Linked DNA regions of Homo sapiens: region 1 is linked to region 2. The links come from fine-mapping of genetic effects on gene expression. A gene starts in region 2. The other region holds a variant in brackets. All regions are shown on one strand. Distances are between the middles of the regions.

Region 1 (2,909 bases), 52 kb before region 2:
AGATGGGTATGTGGCAGGCTATGTTTGACCTGAATACCCAGAGGCCAGATGATGAACGTTTCACCTCCCACATGAGGGATCTTGTGTTGGGTTCTGTGCTCCGGAGTGCCTCTGCCTCCCTAGCTGCTGTCCTCACCCTGTACATAGGGCACCACATACATGAAGTGACCATTGCTGTGACAGCTCTTGGGGAAGCAGAAGGCTGTCAGCAGGACTGAGGGGTCTATGCCATAAAGAAGGGGAAGATGCTCTGCCCACAGGGGCCCCCCCATGGGAGAAAAGAGGGCCCCAACAAGTAACATGCTCACGGATGTGGATAGATTTGATTTTGACCGGGGTTGACCGAGAGAAAATCAATAAGCAGCCCAATGAAGTACTCTTAACTTTGTGGAGATAATTGTCTCTGGAGCAGCAATTCCAGAAAATGCCCAACGGGGAGAAGGACATTGCTGCGTGACCCAGTCCCACCCGGGCACTTCAGCTCAAAGACTACTTGCTGCAGCCAGGTGGAAATGTAGAGCCTTTTCTGTTTGATTAGGAAACTGGCTGAGGTGCCCATCTTGGGGGGACACCAGACAACCAGCGACCACGTGTGGAATTAGTGATCCACTGGTCTTCCACTAGTGTACAATGGGTGCTGGTGCTGGTGGATACTGGCACAGATTGTGTCCTTGCTTATGGGAACCCAAATAAATTTCAGGGCTAACCTGCTTACATTGATGGATATGGAGGCTGGTCAGTGGAAGTGAAACCTGTATCTCTGCACCTTGGCATCTGCTGTTTGGCTCCCCATTTATATTCTGTGTATTTCTCTCCCATACCAGAATACATTCTGGGGATGGACATTTTACATGGCCTGGCATTACAAACCACACCCAGGGAATTCAGACTCTGAGTGTGTGTGGTGAAGCCGATGCTGCGTGGACATACATGTCACCAGCCTCAGGTCCTGCCACAACCCTGACAGGTTACTTCCACCCATCAATACTGTTTGCCAGGTGGGCATACAGAGATAACTGAGACAATTAAAAACCTGGAGGAGGTGCAGATAGTGTGTGGCACCCACAGCCCCTACAATTCTCCAGTGTGGCCAGTTAGAAAGCCTAATGGAACTTGTTGGATGATGGTGGACTATTGGGAACTGAATAAAGTAACACCCCCTTTGCATGCAGCTGTACTGTCAATCATGGATTTGATGGACTGTTTGATGACAGAACTGGGACAGTATCACTATGAAGTGGACTTGGCCAATGCATTTTTCTCCATTGACATTGCTCCAGAGACCCAGGAACAGTTTGCCTTCATGTGGGATAGGCAACAATGGACTTTCACAGTGTTGCTGCAGGGCTATGTGCATAGCCCCACCATATGTC[C/A]TGGTCTAGTTGCAACAGATTTAGCTGCCTGGCAATGTCCAGAAGGGGTCCACCTATTCCATTATATTGATGATATCATGTTAACCTCTGATTCTCTTGCAGATTTAGAAGTGGTGGCACCCCTCTTGCAGCAACATGTAGCAGCATACGGTTGGGCCATCAATGAATCCAAGGTCCAAGGGCCTGGATTAGCTGCCAAATTCTTGGGAGTTATCTGGTCAGGTAAGACAAAGGCCATCCCAGAGGCTATGATTGATAAGATTCAGGCATATCCCTGGCCCACCACAGTGAAGAAGCTGCAGATTTTTGTGGGGCTCCTGGGATATCAGCGGGCATTTGTGTCCTTTTTAGCTCAAATGATAAAATTGTTGCATTGGTTAACAAAGAAGGGAGCTCCCTGGGATTGGGATGATGCGGCTGAGACCGCCTTCCTGGCAGCCAAGCTGGCTATTCAGCAGGCACAAGCCCTATGGGTAGTTGACTTGGGGCACCCATTTGAGCTGGATGTGCATGTGACCACAGATGGTTTCGGCTGGGGGGCCTGTGGCAGTGCATAGAGTGCTTGCAAGTGCCAGTAGGCTTTTGGTCCCAACTATGGAAGGGAGATGAGCTCCAGTATTCCCTGATAGAGAAACGCTAGCAGCTATATATGCTGCCCTTCAAGCTGTGAGAGTGTGACAGGATGGGCTGCAGTCGTCGTGTGGATAACTTACCCAATAGTGAGATGGGTGCATTCATGGGTAACGACCCCCCAGACTGGGACGGTGCAGACATCCACTTTGGCAAAGTGGGGTGCCTACGTGGAGCAGCAGGGTACACTGAGTACAAACCCCTTAGCAGCAGAGTTGCAAGAGGTCTTGGGACCTGTAGTCCTAATGCAAGATAAGGCCATGGGGCCTGAGGCAGCCCTAGACCCTGAGCCTTCACCATTTAAGGAAGGGCATCCCTCAATTCCTGATGGGGCATGGTAAACAGATGGGTCTAACTGAGGTGCTACTGCAGCCTGGACTGCCGTTGCAGTCCAACCTTGTACTGACACCATATGGTTGAAACCGGGTGTGAACAAAATAGCCAATGGGCTGAACTTAGAGCAGCATGGATGGTGATCACAAAGGAGGTGACACCTATGGTAATCTGTACCAATAGCTGGGTGGTCTCTCGAGGCTTAACCTTGTGGTAACTACCTGGCAAATACAGAAGTGGCTAGTTGGCCACTCACCCATTTGGGGCCAAGCCACGTGGCAAGACCTCTGGGAAATGGATCATCAGAAAGAGGTAATTATTTATCACGTGTCAGGCCATATGCCTTTGGCCACCCCTGGCAAGGATGAAGCAGATGCCTTGGCCAAGGTCTGATGGTTAGATTCAGCACCTCCACAAGATGTGGCTTTGTGGCTACACTGGAAACTGGGACGTGTGGGGGGTAAACTGATGCAACATGTCAATAAGTGTTGGGGTCTGTATCTGCCCGTACAAGATATTTGTGAGGCTTGTCAGAAATGTCGGGCATGTACTCAGGCATACCTTAAACAGAGG
Region 2 (2,909 bases):
TCATGGAGCAGAAATGAGCCACCTGTACTATGCCCTGACTGAATTCCTGTGCCAGAGAATTCAGAATCATGAGTAAATAAAAGAGCCATTGTTTTAAGTCATTATATTTTGGGGGTGGTTTGAACACAGCAATAAATAACTGAAATACTACTAAAAGCATAAAGAATGTATAACAACCTAATTGTTACAAGGGAGTGGAATTAATAATCTACAAGAAGGCACAAAAGGACAGAAAAGAAACAGAACAAATGAGAAAAATAGAAAGCCAACAGTAATATGGTAAACTCAAATATTAGCTTCTAGGCAATTCTATGTATGAGTAGACACTGACCAAGATCTTGTCTCAATAAGATTTTAAATGTAAAGATTTTCATCTTTTACCTATTGTCCTCTGAATTCCGCCCATATCATTCTCACCTTAGTTTAATGGCCCTGCCTTGATGCAATTTGAAATAAGCTGCTAAGGAGATAACACCCTTAATCTATTCATTGCTGGTGCGCTTACCCAGTCTGGTTTAGAACCGTTTAACAAAGGCTTAGAATCATAATGTCTATGATTATTACCTCTTAGCTCCTAGTTTTACTGACTTCCATGTCTGGAATTACCAGCACTTCTTTTTCGTACATATGGATTATATGAACTAAATGTATTGTTTCTTCCCTCACTACTGAAAATCTATTCAATATATGGAGTTACAATTCAAAGTATTTTACAACCCAGAAAATATGGCCATTCCGTATGTGGTGTGTATTTCAGAGGTGCTCTGCAAGCTCCATGAGGACAGGCGTGAAGTTCAGGCTACATGCCTGGTACGTAATAGACGCTCTGACAGACATTTGCTGAATGAATAAGTTAGTCACTACGGCGTTTGTGGGCTTTAAAACACAAGTAAATGCGCTTCTATCGCCAAAACCTCACAGCTTCCCTTCTGCAAGGTGGCGTACAAGGCCCACGAAATAGTCGGCCGCCGCAGGTGCGCAGCCTGTCCAGCCTGTCCGGCTCGGGGCAGGCGACCTCGTCTGGTGGCAGTGGGGGAGGCAGCCGTTTGCTTCCTCACAGGGTGTGCCGGAATCAGAGGCTGGAGGCGTCTGGGGAGTAGGCAAATAAACAAAGCCAACCGCACCGAAACGGGTCGTTCCGTTTCACATCCTCCCTCGGGTGTCTGGGTCTTCTCGGAACAAAGTGACCCTCCATCTGTCCGCAGGCAGGTGGAGCCCGTCCCACGCGGCACGCGCCTTCCTTCCTCACAGCCGCGTGTAGACGCGGACCCTCAGGGACACTGCGGACGCGAGAAAGGACACGCCCCCTCGCGGGAGCATAAGTCCACCGCACAGAACTCGCGCGCCTCCCCTCGAACGAACGCGCACGCGCGCGCAGGGGGCGGGTCTTCTTCCCGACACCCACTGAGCGCCCGGCCTCCTCACCCCACCCCACCGAACTCCGGCCGCCCAGGCTCCGCCTCCGCGACGGGCCGTCGGGAGGAGGCGACCGGAAGCCACTTAAAGCAGAGATCGAGGTGACAGGCGAGCTGGCTGGACTCGGAGCGCGGTCGAGGCTTTCTGCGTTCGCGGCGGCGGAATGGCCCGTGCGCGGCTCGCCGCGTCGCGGCTCTGTGGTCCCTAGACGTCGGCTCCCGCCCTCGGCGCTGATCTCCGGCGCGGGCACTGCTTTCCACTCGGCTCCTGTCGTCCGTTCTCTCAGGCTCCCGTTCAGGTAAAGGGCTCCGGGAGGGCACTGAGGGGCTGAAGAACCCTAGCGGGGAGTGCGAGCGCCGGCCTCGCGGCTCCGGCCCCGGCCCCGGCCCCGCGCCGGCAGTGTGCGGGGCTCTCGCGGATCGGGGTGATTGATTTTGAGACTGCCCTTTGTACCGAATTCACTCGGGTCCCGTCAGCATGAAGATGGAATTGGTTTACACTTCTTAGGCACTTAGAGCCTGTGGCAGGTGTATACATCAGACCGAGGCGCCGAAGGATTTAGTTGGGGTCGCAGGCGCCTGCCCCTTCCCCGTTCGTCAGGGTGGGGGCGCGTCTATGCGGCCTCCCCCGCGGGCCGACCCCGGGTGCTCTGAGGCGCCTAGGAGCCCTTCCCAGACCCCGGGGGGGAGGGCACGGCAGCTACGGGAGCCTTCCGGCTACCCCGCGTTTCGGGCTGCAGCCCAGAAGTTTGGAAGATGTTTTCACATTAACTTTGAGAGCGCACAAGTCTTCGTCTTCCTCCCCGCCGCCGCGGGAAGCGCTCGCCGCCTTTCCCCCGCGCTTCGCGGCTCAGTTCTGCGAGCCCCCAAGACCCGTTGGACGCTCCTCGGGAGGTGAGCTGAGGGGGTAAAGAAGAATTAGAGAGAGAAGGCGCCGCGAGTAGTCTCTGGGATGCAGGGAGGCCGGGGCGGGTCGTTGGTCCGAAGGAGGCTGGACAGGAGTTGGGGGGCGCCCAGGCGCCTGCTGAGGGGAAGGCGGGGGCGGGGACGCCCGGGAACACCCGGAATTGCAGAGCCGGGCGGCGCCTCAGCTGCACTGCGCGGAGTTGGCGCGGCCCGGGACCAGGAGCTGAGCAAACCGCCGCGGCCAACAGGAGGCGTCACTCGGACCCGGGCTCGGCGCCGGGGTGTCGCGCGGCGGCGGGCGGGCAGGCTTTGGAGCGGCAGTTTTTTCGGAAAGTGCTTTTGGCCGGGAGTGCCGCAGAACCCCAGCGTCACGAGGTGAGGGGTGTCGCGGTGTGTCGCCTGCCGCTGGAGACCGGAGGATGTGTTCTTCTCATCTTTATTTTTCTGTTATGAAAACTAATTGAGGAGCTAGGTTCTAGTGGCTTTCCCCCTCCAGCCACTTCTCCAGTTCTCTGCTTCTTCCTCCCAGTTTTGTTTCCGAGTTTGATGAAAGGGCAATAATAGGAAAAGTTGCGCGCGCGCGCTTGC

The links. PIP is the estimated chance that this variant, and not a neighbour inherited with it, causes the effect.
Region 1: its variant is fine-mapped to the expression of TIPARP in whole blood (INTERVAL, PIP above 0.99).

Annotation. Positions count from the first base shown.
Region 1 is chr3:156,621,150-156,624,058 of GRCh38, forward strand. No RefSeq gene overlaps it. Among named protein-coding and RNA genes, the nearest start is that of TIPARP, 52 kb to the right of the region's middle. The variant C/A (reference allele first, on the strand shown) is at 1,374.
Region 2 is chr3:156,673,083-156,675,991 of GRCh38, forward strand. It overlaps TIPARP (TCDD inducible poly(ADP-ribose) polymerase), which reads left to right and starts at 1,508. Exons shown (of 6, transcript NM_015508.5): 1 at 1,508-1,714. It overlaps TIPARP-AS1 (TIPARP antisense RNA 1), which reads right to left and starts at 2,631. Exons shown (of 1, transcript NR_027954.1): 1 at 89-2,631. RefSeq lists an enhancer at 1,004-1,303 and silencers at 1,714-1,763, 1,794-1,863, 2,234-2,593.